2 separate regions of the Homo sapiens genome follow, and region 2 is linked to region 1. The links come from fine-mapping of genetic effects on gene expression. A gene starts in region 1. The other region holds a variant in brackets. All regions are shown on one strand. Distances are between the middles of the regions. Region 1 holds the start of ALAD (aminolevulinate dehydratase). Region 2 has its middle 6.6 kb from the start of RGS3.

Region 1 (5,378 bases):
TCAGAATAGTTTAGTTTTAACTTTTTATTGAAACGAAATATACATACTAAAAGACACAAATAAGTGTGGAGCTTAATGAATTTTCACGAATTAAACACAGCCATGTAACTCACACCCAGACCAATAAACATTAACTGCATCCAAAGAAACCTCTTTAGTCTCCCCCTGCCGCCTTTTTTTTTTTTTTTTTTTTTTTTTTTTCTGGAGACAGGGTCTTGCTCTGTCATCCAGGCTGGAGTGCAGTGGTACGATCACAGCTTACCGCAGCCTTGACCTCCCAGGCTCAAGCAATCCTCCCATGTCAGCCTCCCAAGTAGCTGGGACTACAGGTGTCCACCACCATGCCCAGCTACTTTTTGTAATTTTTGTAGAGACTGTTTCGCCATGTTGCCAAGGTTGGTCTTGAACTCCTGGGCTCAAGCGATCCACCAGCCTTGGCCTCCCAAAGTGCTAGGATTACAGGTGTGAGCCACCACACCCAGCCTAATCTCCCTTTCAATCCTCCCCATCTCCCCAGTGGAAATCACTATTCTGAGTCCTAACAACACAGCTTAATTTTGCTTGATTGTGTAGTTAATATAAATGAAATCATATTATATACTATTTTGTGTCTCACTTCTTTTACTCAACAATATGTTTAAGATTTATTCATATTATTGCATTCACAATACTGAAAGATTAAGGTAAAATGTTTCAAAAGGTGGAGGCTGGGGGGAGAGTGGGAACAGGTCTTTCAGTCAAGAAGAAGAAAAGACATGGGGGAAATAAGCTACACCAAACAGCAACATTTTAAAATTTCCCGTTCTATTTGGGTTCTTAGATGGTTCTAATTATTTTTAGTTACCAATAACCTCAGGGAAGGAATGAGTGTCAGGAAAGAAATGTCGGGCAGGGAATCTAGGAAAAAACAAATAATAATTGCCCCTATGGAGTGTGGTTATTAGCAGGCATTGCAGAGAGAGCCCAGTGTAACATGGGGCAAATTATTTAATCTAGCTGGCAATTGTTTTCCCAATCCGTAAAGTGAGAATAGTAACATCGTTGCTGTCAAGATTAGATAAATGAATGTAAAATGCATGGTACTGTCCCTGACTCTTTAATGCACAGCAAACATTATTTGCTTTCTATCCCCTTCCTTGTTGAATACAGATCAGAACTCCAGTAGCTGGAAACTAAGCAGTGTCATATTTCCCTAGCCTTACGCCGCTAGGCCCCTTAAATTTAAAATATAAAGTATACAACAGGTTTGGGGTACAGATTTTGAGAAATTTAAAAAAAAATTTTTTTTTGAGACAGAGTCTCCCTCTGTCACCCAGGCTGGAATGCAGTGGCATGATCTCAGCCCATTACAACCTCCGCCTCCCGGGTTCAAGCGATTCTCCTGCCTCAGCCTCCCGAGTAGCTGGGATTACAGGAGCCCGCCACCACGCCCGGCTAATTTTTTGTATTTTTAGTAGAGACAGGGTTTCACCATGTTGGTCAGGCTGGTCTTGAACTCCTGACCTCAAGAGATCCGCCCGCCTTGGCCTCCCAAAGTGCTGGGATTACAGGCGTGAGCCACCGAACCGGGCTGAGAAATAAAATCTGAGAATAAGTGTAATGTAACCCACTAGTGTCCTCTACATTTGAAAGTCAACTTTTCAATAATCCCTGAAGAACCACCTGAAAGGCATTGCTTCGCTAGGGCGATGATGCCCGATCGCCATTTTACTCATCCAATCCTACTGGTTTACCCAGGCCCCATAAGCCTCACCAGATCCCTCTTGCCTCTGCACATCTCCAATCTCCATAAAGACCTTTGATCGGATCTATCATTGTACCTATCATAGGTCTGATGCCCCTATCAAGACTTGGAGTTTTCCTAAACGCCCATGTCTTTCACATCACATCTCTCAACTCATAGCATTGCCGTACCCTGAGAAATAAATGAAGCTGGTACAAATTTTCTCTGAAAACTTGGAAGCCTGGCGCTGAACTCAACAACTTTAGCTTAGTCCGCAAAAATGGACTTAGCTAATACTGTGTTAGGCATAATGGTGCTGTTTTAACGGCTTTGACATCCAATTATTCTTTCACCAAGCCATTAACCAGAGCCAAGTTTGCCCTAGGCTGGGCAAAGGAATGCTGTGAAGTGAAACCTGGGCTGTAACCGCCTCCGAGGCCGGCTCACACCCAGGGACCCTCCCAAGCGGTTCCTGCGCCCCCTCGTGGCCTCCCTCCTGCAGTTCGCTGCACAAGCGCAGGGCCCGGAGCGGGGACGGGCGGGCCCTCCAGGCCCTCGACACACCCAATTGGCCAGGCCTCGTTGCGTGTGGGCGGGGCCGCGGCTGGAGCGGAGGAGCCCCCCAGAAGACCGCCTTCAGGGGGCGTGGCCTGGACTGTGGAGGGGGCGGACCGTGGGGAAGCTGCTTCCGGGTGAGCCCCCCCCGCTCTTACGCGGTCTGTGGGAGACCGGAGCGGGAGACAGCGGTGACAGGAGCAGCGGCCGGGAGCCCTTAGGGAGGCAGGTGAGCGGGGGCTGGATGCGGGGAGATAGCGGGCCTGGAGGGCGGCTCCAGGGCGAGGCGGGGACTGTGGCACCAAGAGTCCTGCGTCCCCAGATTGTGCTGTGCGCCTGAAGCCCTGGCGGTGCAGCCGTGCACGGAGTCCCGTGGAGCGTTTGTTTGGGCTGGATTATCCCGCTGCAGCCGAGGTTGGGGGCCCGGGTTCGGGGCTCCGCACCTCTTCTCTGGGGTTCACCCTCTCGGATACCGCCTGGGCAGACTCCATCGATGCAGAACCCGAGGTGCGGGTGGTGGTTGGTGGGGGGGTAGGGAGGTGAAAACAATAACAGCCGTTTTGTACTAAGCGTTGCGTGCATTGACCATTCATTTATTTTATTTATTTATTTATTTTTGAGACGGAGTTTCGCTCTTGTTGCCCAGGCTGGAGTGCAATGGCGCGATCTCAGCTCACTGCAACCTCCGCCTCCCGGGTTCAAGCGATTCTCCTGCCTCAGCCTGCCAACTAGCTGGGATTACAGGCGTGTGCCACCACGCCTGCTAATTTTTGTATTTTTAGTAGAGATGGGGTTTCTCCCTGTTGGTCAGGCTAGTCTCGAACTCCCGAGCTCAGGTGATTCGCCCACCTCGGCCTCCCAAAGTGCTGGGATTACAGGCGTGAGCCACCACGCCCGGCCTGACCCATTCATTTCTTACAACAACCCATTGAGGTCGGTTCTAGTCCCCATTTACTAAACGAAGAAACTGAGGTCACACAACTAGAAAGCTACAGAACTAGGATTTGTACCCACATCTATCAGACTCCAGAGCCCACATACTTAACCATCCTGCTACCAACAGCAGCCAGGCCCAGAGTCTGGCTCACCCAAAGCTCTCCACAAGCCCAACCTGCTGGGAAACAGATTTGATATCTATCCTTAAAGTATGGAGGTGTCATGGTGGGCACTGAGGACTGGGCTGCTGGAGACCTTCCCCCAGATCTGCCGCTGACCCACTGCGTGATCCTGGGCCTGTGTCTACCCCTCTCTGAGCCCAGTTTCACCCTTGTTTCAGTGATACAATCAGCAAACTTTAAGAAGACTCTTAGCCAAGATATTCTAGGATTCTGGGAATGGCAGCTTCTCCTACGTCTAAATGGCTAACCCCAGAGGCGATCAGGCTCTTCAAAGCCCCAGGGCAAGGCTGGGGTCTCATTCTTCTCTTTAATCCCTGTGTCTAGCACTTCAGCAGGCCCATAGTAGATATTCAAGAAATGTGGGTTGGCTGAATAAACACTTCATCTCTTTTCAGAACTGCATGACAGCTGCTCTCCTGGGCCTTTGTGGGGCTTTGGATTTCTCAGTTCTGGCCACCTTCTATCTAGCTGGCTCTCCTGACTGCCTCCTCCCTGGCCAGTGGCAGAGCCTGCCAGGGCTGGCAGCAGGTCCTAAGCCTCTGTGCGAAGACCCACAGCCTCTGGAATCCTCAGCATAGTACAACTTGCAGGGGTGGGGGGTGGCACATGAAGCTCATAGCCCCTCCTGGTAGCAGTGCTCAGGGCCCAACTTCAGTTACTCCCAGTTTGGGGATGTTGCCTTCCATGGGAGGAGATACTTTCATATTAAATCTGAAACACTTCTTATCCTTCACTGTCCCCTCTTCCATGAAACCACCCTTGACTCAGAGACACAGTCCCTCTGACAGCACCTGGTCCACCCCTCTACTCTGGCAGCCCGGTGGTGATTATTTTGTTTTTCCTCCACCACATAACCTGCTGGAAGGCAGGGACTCCACTTCAGAAATCTTGGAAAACCCTGTGGCCCACAAGGGTTTGAGCTCATATTCCCATCTGGTGAGGTGCAGAAGGCACAGAGCTGTGCCAGGACATCTCGTTCCAACCCAGCCCCACTCCTAATAGTAATAAAAGTAGCTACATGTTTACTGTGCAGCTACTTGGTGCCAGACACCTACCTTATCCCTATCAATAATCTCCACAGCCTTGCAAGTTAGAGATATCATGCCTATTTTGTAGATTATGAAATGAACACTGAAAGGTCAATTACTTTGCCCAAAATTACACAGCAGAGCATAGACCAAACCTGGGACTGTCTGACCCTGAAACATGGATCTTTCTGCACCGCCCTATACTCTGCGTCCCAGCAAAGCTAACCTGTCTGATGTGGTTGGGCAGAGGTGCTGGACCTCCTGGCGGCTCGCTCCTGTCTTCAGTGTGGTAATGTCACAGGCATTTAAATTGTGGTTTGCAAGCTCGCTTGATTTGGGAGAAGTGCCCTCCCAGTCTGTGAAATTCTCCCAAACTCTAAGGGCCTTTTTGCAAAGCAAAACCCACCCTGCATTTGGCTCTGCCAATATGTGATTCAGGGGGTGTTTTCCCACTCACAGAATGGAGTGGGAAACTCCACTTATTAAGTACCTCTTACAATGGAATGACTCTATGGTGTAGGTATCAGGGCACTGAAATAGAAGCCAGGAGCTGCAGGGTCAGTTTATAGCTCTGTATGTCACTCACTGTGATCTCCAAAAGTCCCGTTGCCTCTTTATACCCCATTTTCCACATTAAAGTGTAAGGGATTAAACAGGATTGGCAATTTTCAAGCTTTTAATATTTTCAGCACTGACAGCCGTTTCTCAAATCAAATCTGTCTCTGAATCTTAAAATTCAAAAACAGATCAAAGTGGACTGCTGTAGTGAGACTGTTCCCTTTACTCTAACCCTGCCCCGGTCTCAGGCTCCTAGGCAGTCCTGCCCCAGGGTTTCTGCTAAGCAGGAGCCAGTTGTTCCCTCAGCCTCCTAAAAGCGATGGGGAGTTGAGGCCAGTGGAATGCAGCTTTGGATTCAGAAGCCAGAAAACAACAGAGATTGTTTGTGGGAAGTGA
Region 2 (5,378 bases), 56 kb before region 1:
CAGGCTGGTCTCAAACTCCTGACCTCAGGTGATCTGCCCACCTCAGCCTCCCAAAGTGCTGGGACTACAGGTGTGAGCCACTGAGCCCGGCCTCTTTTTTTTTATTTTTTTTGAAACAGAATCTCGCTCTGTCACCCAGGCTGCAGTGCAATGGCACAATCTCAGCTCACTCCCAGGTTCAAGCGATTCTCATACCTCAGCCTCCCAAGTAGCTGAGACTACAGGCACGCGCCACCACACCTAGCTAATTTTTGTATTTTTAGTAGAGACAGGTTTTCACCATGTTGGCCAGGATGGTTTCGAACTCCTGACCTCAAGTGAACCGTACACCTTGGCCTCCCACAGCGCTGGGATTATAGGCGTGAACCACCGTGCTGGCTAATATTTTAAATTATAAGAGAAAACCACTGCAACCTTATTGTATAAATTTGAAAATCTGAAAGGAACTGGATGATTTTCTAGAAAGTATTAATTAGTAAAATTGATAAAAAGTTTGAAATTTTTAATAGATCACTAACTATAGATAAAATAGAAAAGGAAACCAAAACTCTATTCGACAAAATTATAGAAAATCCAGATAGTTTTAAGAGGCTAATTCTATAAGATCTTCAAGAAACAGATGATGCTAATGTAGTTTTAACTATTTCAGAACATAGGAAAAAACAAAGATGTGTCAGCGCTAGGTAGAAAGCTAGACAAAGACAAAAACCAAGTAAGGTTAGAAACAGAAAACTATAGACCAAAGGTAAAAGATAAAAGTAAGAATAGAAGTTAATTAAATAGAAAATATACAATAGAGGCTGGATGCAGTGGCTCATGCCTGTCATCCCAACACTTTGGGAGACCAAGATGGATGGATCACCTGAGGTCAGGAGTTCAAGACCAGCCTGATCAATATGGTGAAACCCATGTTTGCTAAAAATACAAAAGATAGTCAGGTGTGGTGGCATGCGCCTGTAGTCCTAGCTACTCGGGAGACTGAGGCATGAGAATCACTTGAACCCGGGAGGCAGAGGTTGCAGTGGGCCAAGATAATGCCACTGTGCTCCAGCCTGGACAACAGAGCAAGACTCTGTCTCAAAAAAAGAAAAAAGAAAGAAAATATACAATAGAGCAGATCTATTAAAATGTGGCGAAACTAGGCCAACATTCTCCCAGTTTTGTCACTTTTTTTTAAAGAAAAGCCAGCAATCTTAAATAATCCATGTAATATTTCCCAATTTGTTAATATTAATAACTCATTCAAAATGTTTTAAAATGTTATGAAGGCTAAATAGAATACATCTATACCCCACAGCTAGTTTGAAATTTCTACATAGCCCAATCTGACTTATGAATATAAATGTAAAAATACTAATAAAATACAAGCAAATCAAATCCAACAGTATATTCATGATCAAGTTGGTATTTATCCTAGAGATGCAAAAATGGTTCAAATTTAGTGAACATATTAGTGCAGGGGTTGGCAAACTATGGCCTACCAACCAAATCTGGCTGGCTGCCTGTTTTTGTACAACAGGTGAGCTAAGGATGCATTTTACATTTTCAAATGGTTGGGTGAAAATTTTTAAAGTTAAAGACTTTTCTATGGCCAGAAAAATGTAAAATGTTTTTAACTAAAAAAATGAATTTGGCCAGGCACAGTGGCTCACGCCTGTAATCCCAGGACTTTGGGAGGCCAAGGCAGGCGGATCGCTTGAGGTCAGGAGTTTGAGACCAGCCTGAGCAACATGGTGAAACCCCGTCTCTACTGACTCGATCATGCATACACTGTGGGATTTGATTTGCTAATATTTTATTAGTATTTTTACATCTATAGGCATCAGTCAAATTGGTCTATGAAGAGATTTTTACCTTTGACCTTTTGTCTATAGTTTCCTGTTTCTAACCTTATTTGGTTTTTGTCTCTGTCTAGCTTCCTACCTAGCACTGACAAATCTTCATTTTTTTCCTGGGTTCTGAAATAGCCAAAATTGCATTGGCATCATCTGTTTCTTGAAGGTCTTATAGAAATTGCCTCAAAAGCTACCTGGGTTTTCTAGTAACCAAGGAAATGAAAAAGAAAAAAAAATCTGGCCCACCATTTGCTTTCAGAAAGTTCAAGCATTTGTATTTATATATGAAGCAACTAAGATGCAGAGTTGTTAACTGAATCAGGTTGCTAAACTAGTAAATAAACAGTGGGGAAATAAAAATCCAGCTCCCAGCAAGAGAACCATTATAGAATACCATCTCTCCCAGCAGTCCTCTTGCTCAAAGTGGCAAGGCTACGGTCTAGCAGGACTGAGACTTCTGTGGCTACTGACACATTAAAGTTCAATTCAACAAGTGTTTGCTAAGCACCTATGGAGCTGAGCCTTATAACTGGGCACTGGGGATACATATAGCAGTGAAAAAGATGGAGTTTATAGTCAAGTGGGAGATTGGGTAAGCATTACAATAGAGGAAACACAGCAACCTCTGGAAGCATAGAATAACATTTCACTTAATCTGGGGAGCTAGGCAAACCAAGATGATAAAGGGGGTCAAGGAAGACTGCCCAAAGAAAATCACCTGCAGTATGATTTAGCCAAGTATAGGAGAGGAAGGAAGGGTTACAGGCAGAAAGAACAAAACATGTAAAGGCCAGAAAGTGAGAGGGGGCGTTGTACGTTTGAGGAACTGAACAATGGGAAATGTGGCAGGGAACTTAGAACGTGAGGGAATCAGTAATATGCAAGAAAGTAAACAGGGGCCAAATCATACA[G/A]GGCCTCGGCCAGGCGCGGTGACTCACGCCTGTAATCCCAGCACTTTGGGAGGCTGAGGTAGGTGGATCACCTGAGTTCAGGAGTTTGAGACCAGCCTGGCCAACATGGTGAAACCCATCTCTACTAAAATACAAAATTAGCCAGTGTGGTGGCGCATGCCTGTAATCCCAGCTACTCGGGAGGCTGAGGCAGGAGAATGGCTTGAACCCGGAGGCAGAGGTTGCAGTGAGCTGAGATCATCGCATTGTACTCCAGTCTGGAAGACAAAAGCGAAACTCTGTCTCAAAAAAAAAATAAATAAATCATATAGGGCTGCATATTTTATTATAAGGAGATTGGGCTTTATTTTAAGAGCATAGAGCAGTTGTCAAATATTTTAAGCAAGATCCCAACAGCCTTTAATTCACATTTTAGAAAGATTGCTCTGGCTAGAATACGAAAAAAAAAAAAACAAATTGGTTAGGGGTGGAGGCGTTTGCATGACATGAGGGTCGGAAGCAAAAATTGCTCTTAGAAGTCTTTTCTGGTCATCCAGGTAAAAGATGACAATGACCAAACTAGGGAAGTGGCAATAGGGATGGAAAGAGATAGAATCAACAGGCCATGGTGATTGAGTAGAAGATGGAATGCAAGGAATTCTGGCTTGAGAAATTGTTTAGAAGTGCCCTTTGCAGAAATGAAGAACATGAGAGGCAGGGCTGAACTGAGGGGAGAATGGATGAGTTCAACTGTGAGCCTGCTAAGGTTGGGTGACCCATGTGCCATCCAAGTGAAGATGTCAAGTGAACAGTTGAACATAATGGTCTGAAGCTCAGCAAAAAATACTTAGGCTAGAAATATAGATTTAGGAATTCCCTGTGAGGCCATGAGCATGCATAAGACAGCCCACAGGGAATGTTTAATGTGAGAAAGCTCAGGACAGAACCAAGAGTAGTACCAACTGAAAAAACAGGCAGAGGAAGAAAGGCCTGAAAGGGGAAGGAAAAGTCAGGGGATGTATTAAGAAGGAAATAATAGTCAACAGTGTCAAATATTGTTAAGAGGTCCAGTAGGTTTAATAACTGAGAAGTGTCCATTAGATTTAGCAACAAGACAGTCCCTGTTGACCTTTCATCCCAGAATAAAATGCTGGGGGGCAACAACTTCACATGAATGAAAAGGTACCAAATTTACTCTAAAAGGAAAAACACCCTGGACTCAAAGCCAGACGATATTCTTGGGTCAGGTTTTTTTCATGTCCTAAATTTAACCAGCTGGAATGCTTTGTTAAGTGGTATTTTATTCACCCTTGAAATGAAGGATTTGCCTTTTAAAAGTGTCTCTGTAATTCATCTTCAAGGTAGAACAAGGTGGTATCTTTGGGTTAATTGTTCTCTACAGAAACAGATGCTGGTTGCTGTAAATACCACTGAGGAACTTTAATGTGCCCCAGATGTAGAAGCCTCTAGTGACCTAAATACACAAACAGGGACTAAAGAGAACCAAGTAAAAGATTCAAGATTTCAAGTGTAAGCGGAGAGATACTGCTTCAAAGTGGAAGAGACCAAACCTTCACCACCAAAGGAATGTGAACTAGTAAGTTGAGTCCAAAGATAAAAGCTAAAGACTTGATAAGAGCCAGAAAAGCAGAGTGCCTGGTCTCTGCTAGAATGACTCAGCACCCTCGCAGTTAGGCTGGAAGCCCTTTCAGCCTCTTCAAGAGCTGCTTTTCCTGGCCTGATAATGAGCAACTTGGCCTGGCATAATCCTACATTCCAGAGGCCCTCAGTTTTTCAAAATTAAAAAACAATATAGACTTCTGTTTCCAGCCAAGATGGAATAACAGGAACTGGATTTTCCCTTCACCTGAAACAACTAAAAGACTGGACAAAATATATGAAACAATGGTTTTTAAGATATTGTACATCAGGCAACGAAGGACAGTGATCCCTGAGAAACAGAAAAGAGACAAGCTGTGCCCTGTGATCAGCCCAGCTTATTCCCGGGAGAGACTTTCCAAAAGGGAGAGGGAACTCAGGCCAACTCCAAATCCCTGAACTGAGAAGTTCGGGAGGCCAAGGCAGCTAGAGTTCCAAGGCAGAGTACCAGAGAGGAGACAGTCACACAAAGAGAGGGCCCCAGAGGTCTCCAGAGAGTCCCCACTCACAACTTCAGCTAAGTGCTAATGAGCTCATGGGTTTGAGGAAAGTATCCCAAGGCTGGGGAAAGAACCACCAAAGAATTACAGGGAACAATCTTTAAAGCTCACACAGGGCCAGGAATAGTTCTTAAGCTCATCAACCAGAGTGGAAAGACCTTCTAATTCCTTAGGAGGTATTAGATAGAATACTCAGAAGGGTCTTCCCTCAGTTGTGGGGAATAATCAACCCTAGATTAAATGCTGTACTTGTCCATCTAAAAAAAAAAAAAAAAAAAAAAGTTTAAAAGCAAGACCCAAAAGGATCAAACTGTTTTTGATTTTGGTTTTTGTTTTGTTTTGTTTTGTTTTGTTTTTTTGATACTGTCTCGCTCTGTCGCCCAGGATGGAGTGCAGTAGCAAGATCTCAGCTCACTGCAACCTCCACCTCCCAGGTTCAAGTGATTCTTATGCCTCAGCCTGCTAAGTAGCTGGGACTACAGGTGTGCACCACC

Evidence for each region. PIP is the estimated chance that this variant, and not a neighbour inherited with it, causes the effect.
Region 2: its variant is the best candidate, but not a certain one, in a credible set for the expression of ALAD in whole blood (TOPMed, PIP 0.59).

The regions. Positions count from the first base shown.
Region 1 is chr9:113,398,341-113,403,718 of GRCh38, reverse strand. ALAD (aminolevulinate dehydratase) reads left to right here and starts at 2,435. Exons shown (of 12, transcript NM_000031.6): 1 at 2,435-2,507. RefSeq lists silencers at 2,124-2,483, 2,634-2,683 and an enhancer at 2,699-3,279.
Region 2 is chr9:113,454,471-113,459,848 of GRCh38, reverse strand. It overlaps a transcript of RGS3 not described here. Among named protein-coding and RNA genes, the nearest start is that of RGS3, 6.6 kb to the left of the region's middle. The variant G/A (reference allele first, on the strand shown) is at 2,747.